2 separate regions of the Homo sapiens genome follow, and region 1 is linked to region 2. Evidence: fine-mapped expression QTL. Tissue or cell type: whole blood. Region 2 holds a variant in brackets; the other region holds the start of a gene. All regions are shown on one strand. Distances are from middle to middle.

Evidence for each region. PIP is the estimated chance that this variant, and not a neighbour inherited with it, causes the effect.
Region 1: it holds the start of SAMD3, and the variant in region 2 is fine-mapped to the expression of SAMD3 in whole blood (INTERVAL, PIP above 0.99).

Annotation. Positions count from the first base shown.
Region 1 is chr6:130,220,029-130,226,355 of GRCh38, reverse strand. SAMD3 (sterile alpha motif domain containing 3) reads left to right here and starts at 3,405. Exons shown (of 12, transcript NM_001017373.4): 1 at 3,405-3,662. RefSeq lists an enhancer at 2,689-2,798.
Region 2 is chr6:130,155,415-130,161,741 of GRCh38, reverse strand. The region is part of intron 8 of SAMD3 (sterile alpha motif domain containing 3); the gene reads left to right. Among named protein-coding and RNA genes, the nearest start is that of SAMD3, 64 kb to the left of the region's middle. The variant TG/G (reference allele first, on the strand shown) is at 3,796.

The DNA.
Region 1 (6,327 bases), 65 kb before region 2:
CTATAAGAACTCACTCTACCCACCTGAATCAGAATCTTCTAAGAAAGGGCTTAGGAATCAATATTTTCATGAAGTACACCCCTTGTTCTTATATTAGGTAAGTTGGAAAATCATTCTTAAAAATAAAATTCTGAATTCTGAGTTCAACAGAGAGAAACACAGGGGATCAGCAGCAACCTCTGCACCCTTCAATAACACCTCAAGCTCCAGTCTGCCCATCAGGCTCTCCAGAAAGGTAGAATGACAGCTTCACTAATACCCCTTCCTGGGAAAAGCGGCGCTGTCCTGAATTACTGCAGATACTTCTGCAACAGTGGATAGAAGACTGTACCAGGAAGAGAATAACTGGATGAGATAACTCAACAAGTGATCACATCAATTAGATAAGAAGGGTGATGTGATCAGAAGACAATGGAGCCAGGATTAAGCCAACATCAGGCTGACCCCTCAATTTCCTTAGGCGTCTCTCCTTAGCACTTTACCAGGAATAGGTGCCCAGGCAAGCATTTTTCAAGCTTCCAAATGCCAAGGAGTTTGAAATGACAAGTTAGTTTTTGGCCTGGTTATAGAAATACTGAATTTTCTCATATCTTAAGCTTTTTGGATGACCTAATATATGAATAAATATTTTTCCTCTTCTTCCAACTACTCTCACCTTTATATTGGTGTGCCACATTTGTTCCCATATGTAATCAAAGAATGGTAGAAGTGAGTAGGCAGCAGTTAAGATTGGAATGTAAGGATTTTTAAAAATAAGTTTACCTTGGAACAATCTAAAGAGGAAAGCTATGTGCTATTATAATCCTTACAGTCTTTATTTCTAATATGCCTATCTTACTGAAACTGATCCAGTAGTCCCATAGACAGTTTTTCTTAAATATAGAAATTAATCCTTCTGGTTTTAAAGCTTGAAACTCACCAGATCCAGACAATGAGATACCAGCCTCTCATTCATTGTAATTGCTCCCTTACTCCTTCCACATTCTTGTTTTCCCATACATATTTAACATTTCTTCCCCGCTATATAAACCTCTAATTTTAGTTGATCAGGAAGATGGATTTGAGACTGAGCTCCCATTTCCTGGACTGCAGCACCTGATTAAAGCCTTCTTCCTTGGCAATACTTGTTGTCTCAGTCGTTGGCTTTCTGTGCAGCAAATAGCAGGACCTAAACTGAACCCCTGGTGTTTCAGTAACATTATTTTTTACTTGTTAATCATTCACATAACCTTTTCCTCTCCTCCTTACTTTCTTCCCCATGCTCACTCACTCTCTTGCTCAGTACTGCTCTCTGTCTCTGTCTGTCTCTCTTTATCTCTCTCTAACACACACACATACACACAAATTCAGACACACAGACTCATATTTAATGATGGACTATAGCCTACCAATTGGTATGAATTTTACCTTTTGGGCCAACTCTAAAAAGAGTGCTTCGGGCTGGGCGTGGTGACTCATGCCTGTAATCTCAGCACTTTAGGAGGCCGAGGCAGGCGGTTCATGAGGTCAGGAGATCGAGATCATCCTGGCTAACACAGTGAAACCCCATCTCTACTAAAAATACAAAAACTTAGCTGGGCGTGGTGGCACGTGCCTGTAGTCCCAGATACTCAGGAGGCTGAGGCAGGAGAATCGCTTAAACCCAGGAGGTGGAAGTTGCAGTGAGCTGAGATCGTGCCATTACACTCCAGCCTGGGTGACAAAGGGAGACTCCATCTCAAAAATAATAATAATAATAATAATAATAATAATAATAATAATAAATAAATAGAGTGCTTTTGCATAAACAAAAGTTTGAACATTCTGGCCCGTCCTCACATGAACCTAGGGCTGGCAGAAGCATGAGCATTTGTCACTCATGAGAAACACAGGGTCCTATGCCTTTTTGTGTCTCCACACCTCCCATCTGTGCTTTGCTTTTGATACGGGAGGCGGGCAGGGAAGTGCTGGGTAGAGAAGAATGGGGTCCCTGGCTAGGGCTCCACCCTCAGGCCTGTACCCATGGACGTAAGTGAGAACAGGCACTCCTGTTTTCACGCCCAAATGTTGCATTTTCCAAAAGCACTCTGGCCCGCCACACCCCCATCCTCTGCCTATAAAAACCCTGAGACCCTAGCGGGCACAGACACAAGCGGCTGGACATCAAGAGGAACACACTGGCAGAATACACTGACAGACTGGCAGGACATCAACAGCAGTATGATGTGGACCACGTAGAATTTGCCTGGGGGTGGTTGGAGGAGAGTCAGGCCACTGAGCGGCCTGACTCCAGGGGAAGACCGCCTTCCCATTCCATTCCCCTTGTGGATCCCATCCATCTGCTGAGAGCTACTTCCACCAGTCAATAAAACTGTGCACCCATTCTCCAAGCCTACATGTGATTCAATTTTTCTGGTACATTAAGGCAAGAACCTTGGGATACAGAAAGCCCTCTGTCCTTGCGATAAGGCAGAGGATCTAATTGAGCTGATTAACACAAGCCACCTGCGGATGGCTAAGCTGAAAGACTGCACTGTAACACACTCCCACTGGGGCTTCTGGAGCTGTAAACACTCAACCCTAGGTGCTGCCATGGGGTAGGAGCCCATGCTCCCCATGACCTGCCCGTCTGCATGCTCCCTCTAGGGGTTTGAGCTGCAGGGTACTGAAGAAGCGAGTCACACCCATCGCACGCCCTGCAAGGGTGTTTCCAAGTTTCACTTTGAGTCACACTGCATTAAGAAGATCCACTACCTTGCATCCCCTTCTTCCTGAAGAGGCCTACAAAGTCAGACCAGCACTTAGTGTTAACAGATCAAGAGAGCCCAGCTTGACTCTACCAGCTGAGCAATATAGGTGGATACAGAAGTCACCTTTCATGTGTTCTAACAAATGAGTAACTCCAAAAAAATAGTTGTAATATTTTAATAATGTAAGTTCTTGCCACTACTCAGAGCTATAAAATGTTCAGCTATCACCTGCACTATCACGTACACACTGAGCTATGTAACGAGAATTACATTCAGCCAATGTCTGCTAAATAAAGGTTTGTGCATTTTAGTTCAATGATGTAGCTACAAAGAAAATGAAGCCTCAAGACACTAGAACCTTCTGAGATGCAAAGCTTTGAGTCCTTGACTTTGAATTCAATGTCTAAATTCTAATACATTATTATTATATCTGCCTTAAGATTGATATAGGAAATTTTTTTTCTAGTTAGTGTTATTTCTTCTAGGAGCTTAAAAAAGGTAACTAAGGAAGAATTAAATGTTCCAAAGATATATTATGGTAAACATGTATGTACATACATGGGTATTTGTCACACTTGTCAGAATCTTCTTCCTTTGAGAGGTGCAAACGTTAGCTGTCTGAGATCCACCCTGTTTCAAACTTACCTTATGCTTCCTGTGTACTGTGAGGCTCCCAGTCTTGCTGTCTTTCAATGGGGCAGCCACTGCTCAGTTGCTGCCATTCAGAAATATGAACCCAGTATCACCAGAACTTTTGATTTTTCAAGAGAAACCAAGATTCCAGATTTGTAGGTGATATCTTCCATTTTTCAGATAAAACAAAGGAACCAGAACCACATCCACTGATCGGATTTGCCTGGGGAGGAGGGGTGCTCTCTCCTTTGATCTTCTCTTCTGGAAGAGATGGACCAAAAGCCTCTCCAGCAATAATCCGTAAATATCACTTTTTACCTTTTCTCTATAAAACTCTAACTTTTCTGATATTAAGATAAAATTCTTTCATTGAGAAAAATTTAAGAGTGGCAGATTACAAACAAAAAACATTAATTCCTCCAAACAGAGATTGCCACTTCTGCCTTCTAGTATATGCTTTCCCAGCCTTTGTGTAACCAAGCATTTCATTCTACTTTTATTTTATTCTTTCCACAAATCTGAATCATACTATTTTAAATTTATTTGCAGTTAACCATATCCATGACTGTTTCTCTCTACATAGTTATTTGTCTAGATACAATTTTTGATTACTACATAGTATTTTATTTTAAATATAAATTACTGTAATTCATTGGCCAATTCCTATTGCTGGAAATTTTATCTGTCCAATTTATTTGCTATTCGGACCATTGCTATGGCACACATCTTTGTGTTCATTTCTGTTAATGTCTTTAGGCACATTCTTAGAAATGCTATTTTGGGGTCAGAATGTAGAAATATTTTTAATGTTTTTGGCTTGCATTAGTACCCTTTAAAGTTGGATAGATTGGATTCAAATCACTTTTACCTTTACAAGCAAAGGAACCTTAGGCGAGTTACCCTGTAAACTCCAGGACTTTCAATTATAAAATGGGAATAATATGACAGGGCAAGTTGTGCCACTTTATACTCCCCTTAGCAGTGTGTAAGAGAACAACTGACCTTGCATTCTTGCTAATTTTCACCTTTTCCAATGGAATAAATGAAGATGGTATTTAATTATTTTTATTACAAATAATGTAGATTTTTCAGATACTGGTTTAAAATTTTGTTCAAGAGTTACCTATTCCTATTTTTTTCTATTGGTGTATTAATTTTTTAGTTGGTTTTATGGATTATAGAGTTGACCCTTGAACAACATGTGTTGGAACCTCTCAGGTCCACTTACATGCAGATTTTCTTCTGCCTCTGCCACCCCTGAGACAGCAAGACCAACTCTCCTCTTCCTCCTCCTCCTCCTCAGCCTACTCACTGCAAGACGACGAGTATGAAGATCTTTATGATGATCCACTTCCATGTAATAAATAGTAAATGTTTTCTCTTCCTTGTTATTTGCTTAATAACATTTTCTTTCCTCTAACTCATTTTATTGTAACAGTACTGTATATAATATATATAACATACAAAATATGTGTTAATTGTCTATGTTATCAGTTAAGATTCTGATCAATAGTAGGCTATTAGTAGTTAAGTTTGGGGGTAGTCAAAAGTTACTTGCAAATTTTCAACTGCATAGCAGAGTCAGCGTCCCAACCCCTGTGTCGTTCAAGGGTCCACTGTGATATATATGTGTACACATGCGTTTTTCCTTTTTAGTCAAATCTATCAATATTTTATTTTTATTATGTAATCTTAGATTATTTTAAACTCTTTTTAATTTTTCATATTTACATATTTAACTTATCTGAGGAATTTATTGTGTAGGTGTTATGAGGCATTATCCCAACAAAATATATTGACTAATCCCTTCTTTGTCACCAATTTTAAAGATCTTTTCACTGGCTGGGCGTGGTGGCTCATGCCTGTAATCCCAGCACTTTGGGAGGCCAAGGTGGGCAGATCACAAGGTCAGGAGATCGAGACCATCCTGGCTAACACAGTGAAACCCCGTCTCTACTAAAAACACAAAAAAATTAGCTGGGCGTGGTGGTGGGCACCCGTAGTCCCAGCTACTCGGGAGGTTGAGGCAGGAGAATGGCATGAACCCGGGAGGCGGAGCTTGCAGTGAGCCGAGATCGTGCCACTGCACTCCAGCCTGGGCAACAGAGCGAGACTGTCAAAAAAAAAAAAAGATATTTTCAGTACTTCCATATGAATGTTTCTGTTTCTAAGTTTCTATTCTGTTTCAATATCTGTTCTCTTTTCCTCCAGTACCATGCTGTTAATAGCATAACATTTTTTAACATCTGGAAGTGCAAGTCCTTTTGTCAAGCATTTTTCGTTCTTTTTACCTATTTATTCTTCCACATGAAAACTAGCCTCATAGTAAGTAAAACATATAACCACGTATGTATATTAATTGGAATTTATAAATTAATTCTGAGGGAAATGACATCTTCAAACTATCAAGACTTCTCAGTCACACATCCAGCTTTTCATAAAATTCAATAGCACAGTTCACAGTTACCATCTCTGGCAGGACTGTAATCTGTGTTGCTGAACCATAAGCTTTGGCTGTCAACGAGGCAGAAGCAGGGATAAACCATAAGTTTGACTCAAAGGCCAAAACACTAGGGTGTTTGTGACTCAAAAGTTCCAAAGTTCTGGGACTCTGGCTCATTGCTATTTTTGTTCATTAATTTAACTAAACCTCCCAGATAAGTGGCTCTTTAGTTTCTTTGAAAATGTAAAAATTGGCCAGGCTAGTGGCTCACACCTGTAATCCCAGCACTCTGGGGGGCCGAGGCAGGTGGATCACAAGCTCAGCAGTTCGAGACCAACCTGGCCAACATGGTGAAACCCCATTTCCACTAAATATACAAAAATTAGCCTGGCATGGTGGCACGCGTCTGTAATCCCAGCTACTCAGGAGGCTGAGGCAAAAGAATGGCTTGAATCCGGGAGGTGGAGGTTGCAATGAGCCGAGATAGTGCCACTGCACTCCAGTCTGGATGACAGAGCGAGA
Region 2 (6,327 bases):
ACTTCCCCTTTGAGGGTCTCAATTTGCCCATCAGTAAAGTGTGAGGCATGGACTAGGTGGTTTCTAAGTTCTTTCCAGCTTTAATAATATATAAATCATTAACAGTATATCTAACAATATATAAATCTAACAATATGTAAATCATTAAAATGGTGAGAATTTTAAATTCTGATGTAGCTTTTTAATAATTAGGAAAATCACTTCAGTCTAGAATACAACCCACCAACACTGTGTTAATCCCATCAGTCTGATCAGGTGGAAGTTATCTAGAAACTTTATTTTCATGATTGGGTAAGAGTTTTGGAGGAAGTAGTACATTATAAATACAGTAATATCTAAATGTCAATATCAGCAATTATATAACTTCTACTATATTTCAGTAGATGAAAGAAAGCCATTTAGATAATTAAAACATTTTTTCTGTACTTTAAAAAATTAAAATGTTTTCTTACTTAAGAAATTGTCATTCTATGCATTTGAGACATACAGAAGAAAAACTACATACGTAACATATATGTAGTTTATGAGACAAAATAAACACTGTTAACTCAGCATTTAACTTTAGAACTAGAACACTGCCTGCACCATTGTGTGTGCCTGAGTTTTCCTCCCCTCTCCTGTCACCTGCCTTTCCAACACCACAGGCCTCTAGAACTAATCACTATTCTGAATTTTATGTTTATCATTCACCTGTTTTAAAAATAAATGACATTGTCACATATGCATGAATTCTTAAGGGATATATTGCTTAGTTTTGCTTGTTTTTTTTTCAAGCACATATTTTATTTGAATAAATCCTCTGTAGTCCATTTTTATGTTCAACAGTTTAAAACATATACAAACAAAGCTTGAAAGTAAATGAAGATCTGACATATCTGAAGCTTAAAGATTTTTATTTTTCTTTTCACCACCTTCCACATTTTACATTTGAAACTCCTTGGCTTCGTTGACAATCCATTATCCTGGTTCTCCTGCTCCTATAATTTTCTCCCTTTCTATATATCTAAATCTAGATAATTTAAAAGAAATATCAAATCTCTATCTCTGCATTCACAAGTTTCCTAGCTATTCTTCCAACCTCAATTAAAAGATTTCATCGCCTTTAAGTCCCAGCTTTAAACCCTGGCCGTCTATGGTTTTCCACAATCTTCAGATTTGCTCTGCTAAACATTCCCGTAACATGCTCTGCCCTTCCTGTCTCTCCACCCAGAACTGTCCTTTCTTCTTTCAAATTCTATTATCCCTTAAAATCTGATCAGTTCCTCATCTTCCACGAATTTTCCTTCACTACCCCAGCCTAAAACAAATTCTAGTTTTGCTTGTTTTTAAGGTTTACAAAATGATATGAAAACTATATGTTGGCTTTGATAAGTTCCTTTTTTTCAATCAATGTAATGTCACTGGAATTCATCCAGGTTGTTCAGTTGAGTGTAGTTTATTCGTTTTCCTGTTGGTTTAATCTATTGTGACAGGCAACCAGTTTATTTGGCTCTTCTCTTCTTAACGGATATTTGATTTGTTTCCAGTGTTGGCTGTTATGAACTATGCTGCTGTGATTATTCTTGTATGTGTGTCTTGAAGCATATGTGAAGATTTTTTTCAAGGATTTATACTTAGGAGTGGATTTGCTGGCTCACTGGCTCACAGGGTGTGCAGATATTCAACTCTGTAAGACAGTGCCAAATTATTTTCCTGGATGATTAAGCTCCCTGAGCAGCACTCGTTAATCATCTGATTTCTTTTCCACTCACCCCACCCCCATGCAATGCCACCACCCCACTTCCAATCTATTGGGAATACAATGGTACTGTGTTTGGCTTCCATTTTAGTTATGTATGAGGGTGATCATCTTTTCATATGTTTATGAAATATTCATGTTTCCTCCTCTGTAAAGTGTCTGTTCATGTCTTTTGCTTATTTTTCTATGAGGCTGCCTTTTTTTCAATTTACTTGTAAAAATCCTTTGTATATTCTGTATTCTACTCCTTTACTAATTATATTTGTTCCCAATATCTTCTCACAGTTTGTGCCTTGCCTTTTAAATTTCTTTCTGGTGTCTTTTGACAAGGAAAGACAAGGTTGCAATTTTAATGTAGTTAGAGTTATCAATCATTTGTCTTATGATCAGTGCTTCTGAGGCAGGAGAATAGGGTCTGAAGGCAGGAAGCCTAAGGCCAATTTGCACCAACTTCCTCGAACTGAATCAAAAGGAAAACCCCAACTTTTCATGCCCAGGTAACAAAAGGACCAGAGGCTACTCCCTTTGCAATCTCCCACCCGCCTCTGTGTGGCAGATGAAAAATGGAAAGTACCTCTGTATTAGTCTGTTTTCACACTGCTGATAAAGACATACCTGAGACCGGGCAATTTACAAAATAAAGAGGCTTATTGAACTTACAGTTACACATGACTGGGGAGGCCTCACAATTATGTCAGAAGGCAAGGAGGAGAAAGTCACATCTTCTGTGGATGGCAACAGGCAAACAGAGAGCTTGTGCAGAGAAACTCCCGTTTTTAAAACCATTGGATCTTGTGAGACCCATTCACTACCATGAGAACAGCATGAGAAAGACTTGCCCCCATGATTCAATCATCTCCCAACTGGTCCTTCCCACAACAGGTGGGAATTATGGGAGCTACAAGATGAGATTTGGGTGGGGACACAGAGCCAAACCATATCAACCTCTGATTGGTCCCCTCTTGCAACCAGTCAGACTGGTAGCAGGCCTAGTCTTCATTTGCATTGGGATATAACTTTGTTACTTCACTACTTCACTTCAGCCTCTGGTCCCTTCCCACAACCAATCAGACATTTGCATAGAGTGTAATTTTGTAACTTCAGCCACTGATTGGTCACCTTCCACAACCAATCAGACTGGTCGTGGGCCTCTCCTGTATTTACATAGGGTGTAAACCGAGTCACCAGTGGGAAACCACTAGAGGCTATTTAAAACCCAGAAAATTCTCTTGAGCAGCCAGCTTGAGCCCGCTCCCACTCTGTGGAGTATACTTTTGTTTCAATAAATCTGATTTTTGTTGCTTCTTTATTTCATGGCTTTGTTGTGCATTTCTTCCAATTCTTTGTTCAAAACGCCAAGAACCTGGACAACTTGTAGTCAAGGCCCTCCACTGGTAACACTTTTAGGAAATCCTTTCTTACCTTGAAGTGATAAGAAATATTTCTATATTTTCTTTAAATTTTTTTAAGTTTTTGCTCTTAAAATTTAACTTCTTAAGCCATATGGGATTTTTTTTTTCCTTATGGATAGAAAATTTTCTTGCACCTTTCAGAAAATAGTCATTCTCTTCCTCAGATTCGTGATGCCATCTCTGTTGTTTCCATGGCTCTGTGTCTAGAAGCTCTGCTGTTTTCCGCTAGTAAAGTCATCTATCCCTGCATCAATACCAACTTCCTTACTTACATAGCTGTAAAATGTCTTGATACTTTCCCATCACTGCTTTATTATTCTTTAAGAATGCCTTGGTCATTCTTGAGGTTTTTAATCTTTCAAATGAGTTTTAGAATCAGCTAGTCAAGTTCTGATAAAAAAAATTGTGGTTTTTGATAGGTTTGGGATTTTGACAGAAATATTGAATCAGCAGCTCTACTTGGAGAAAGATGACTTTCTTACAATATTGAATCTTGCTAGCTGTGAACATAATAGGCTATCCATTTATTTAAGTCTCATTAATATTTTATAGTTTCATAATTTTCTTAAAAGTCTTCCACATTTTTTGTTAGTTTTATTCCTAGGTATCTTATAAGGTTTTTTTTGCAATTTAATTTTTTTTTTT[TG/G]CAAAATATAATTGTAAAAAATTGTATTTTCTATGTTAGCGTATGTTAGAATATTTATCTTGTATTCAGTTGCTCTGAAAAACTCAGCTGTAACAAATTACATATGCATGATTTTAAGTTTTCTCTTGAACAATCACATCATCTATGAATATTGACAATTTCGTTTCTATCTTTTCAATTTTTATACCTTTTATTTTCCTGTCTTACTACTCTGACTAGAATTTCAGTATAGGCTGAGTAAGAGTTTAATAAAGCACCTTTGTGTTGCTTCTGATTTTAAAGATTATTCTTTTAAAATTTCACCATTAAAAATCATATCTGTCAGGCGTGGTGGCTCATGCCTGTAATCCCAACAATTTGGGAGGCCAAGGTAGCAGATCACTTAAGCCCAGGGGTTCAAGACCAGCCTGGGCAACATGGCAAGACCTGTCTCTACAAAAAATACAAAAATTAACCAGATGTGGTGGCATGGCCCTGTAGGCCCATCTGTTGGGACAGTTGATCACTTGTGCCTGGAAGTTTGAGGCTGCACTGAGCTGTGATCACGCCACTGCACTTCAGCCTGGGTGACAGAGTGAGACCTTGTCTCAAAAAAAAAAAATATGTTAGCTCTAGGTTTTTGGTATATAACTTTATAGGTTTTGAAAATTTCTCTTATTTTGACAAAAGTTTTTTTCTTTAATCATAGAGGGATATTATAAGATACTTTTTCTGCGTTATTTGAAATGGTCATGTTTTTTCATCTTTAATTAGTTAATTAATGCAGTATATGACGTTTACACATGTTTAGATAATCCAAGTAAAATTATGGAACTGTTGTAATTTTATTATTTATTTATTTATTTATTTATTTATTTATTTATTTATTTATTTTTTGAGACGGAGTCTCACTCTGTTGCCTAGGCTGGAGCACAGTGGCACCATCTTGGCTCACCACAACCTCTGTCCCCCAGGTTCAAACGATTCTCCTGTCTCAGTCCCCCGGGTAGCTGGGATTACAGGAATGTGCCACCACACCTGGCTACTTTTTTGTATTTTTAGTAGAGACAGGGTTTCACCATGTTAGCCAGGCTGGTCTCAAACTCCTGACCTAAGGTGATCCACCCGCCTCGGCCTCCCAACATTTATTATTGTTTTTGTAGAGATAGAGCCTTGCTATGTTGCCCTGGCTTCTCTCAAACTCCTGGCCTCAAGTAACCCTCAGCCTCAGCCTCCCAAAGTATTGGGATTACTGGGTGTGAGCTGCTGTGCCCAACAATCATACTGTTCATACACCACGTTTCTCAAAACCTACCTCTTTTCTGCCCCGAATCTTTCTATAACAGTGGCCCCCAAACTGAGATTTTAGTATGATAGTATGTGAAACGTAATGGGTAAATCAATCATGTTTTCTTTTAATTTGCTATAGTTCCCTTACCAATGTCAAACTACCCTTGAGTTTCTGAGGTATAATAAATTCAAGTTAGTTGTTCCTTGTTTCTAATATCTGCAACTTTGTTCATGAACGAGAGTGACTGCACTTTTCCTTTCTTACACTGTTCTTTCAGGTTTGGGGATCAGTGTCATAGAGGCTTCAAAGGATGGGTTAGAGAGTATTCCTTTTTTTTCTTTTCTTTTTTTTTGAGACAGTCTTGCTCTGTCTCCCAGGTTGCAGTGCAGTGGTGTGATCTCGGCTCTGCTTCCCGGTTCAAGCAATTCTCATGCCTCAGCCTCCCAAGTAGCTGGGATTACAGGTGCATGCTACTGTGTCGGCTAATTTTTGTATTTTTAGTAGAGGTGGGGTTTCGCTATGTTGGCTAGGCTGGTCTTGAACTCCTGGCTTTAGGTGATCCTCCTGACTCGTCCTTCCAAAGTGCTGGGATTACAGGTGTGAGCCACCATGCCTGGCCTCCTTTCCTTTTTCTTGAAAAATTTTGCATAAATTTGAACACTCTGTTTCAAAAGTTAAGTAGATTTTGTCTGTAAAACCCTCAAGTCTTTCTTGGTATTTTCTTTGTGGAAAGACTTTTATCTTCCAACTAAATTTGTATAAGATTATAGGAACTTCTTCTTAATTTTGATAATTTTATTTTTCTAGGCGTTCCTTCACTTGGTTTAGGTCTTGTTAGTCATTCTGTGTTCACAGAAAGTAGATCTACTGAGGCTTTCCTATGTGCTTGTAAAAGCCTTGATATAAGAGGATTGTAGATTCCTTATCACCTTTTTCGTCTTTTATAGGTATCATCTGTTCACATTCTGGTCAGCTAGACAGTTGATCAACTTTGATTTGCATGCAGTTCAGCTGACTGTCCTCTTAACTCATATTTCTAGAAAGATATTTTTCTTATTTCCTCAAAGCTGATTGTCTTAGATTTTCAACAAGAATAAGTGAGGTGTTTCTTAGCTGCCCCCACTCCGCCCAACGTACCCAGTTGTATAGTGAATAAAATTATTAGTTTAATGATTTAGCATCAGAAAATAACCACTGTTATTATTTTGAATTTGGATTATATGGCATGGTACTGCAGCTATAAAAAGGCATTTAAAAAGAA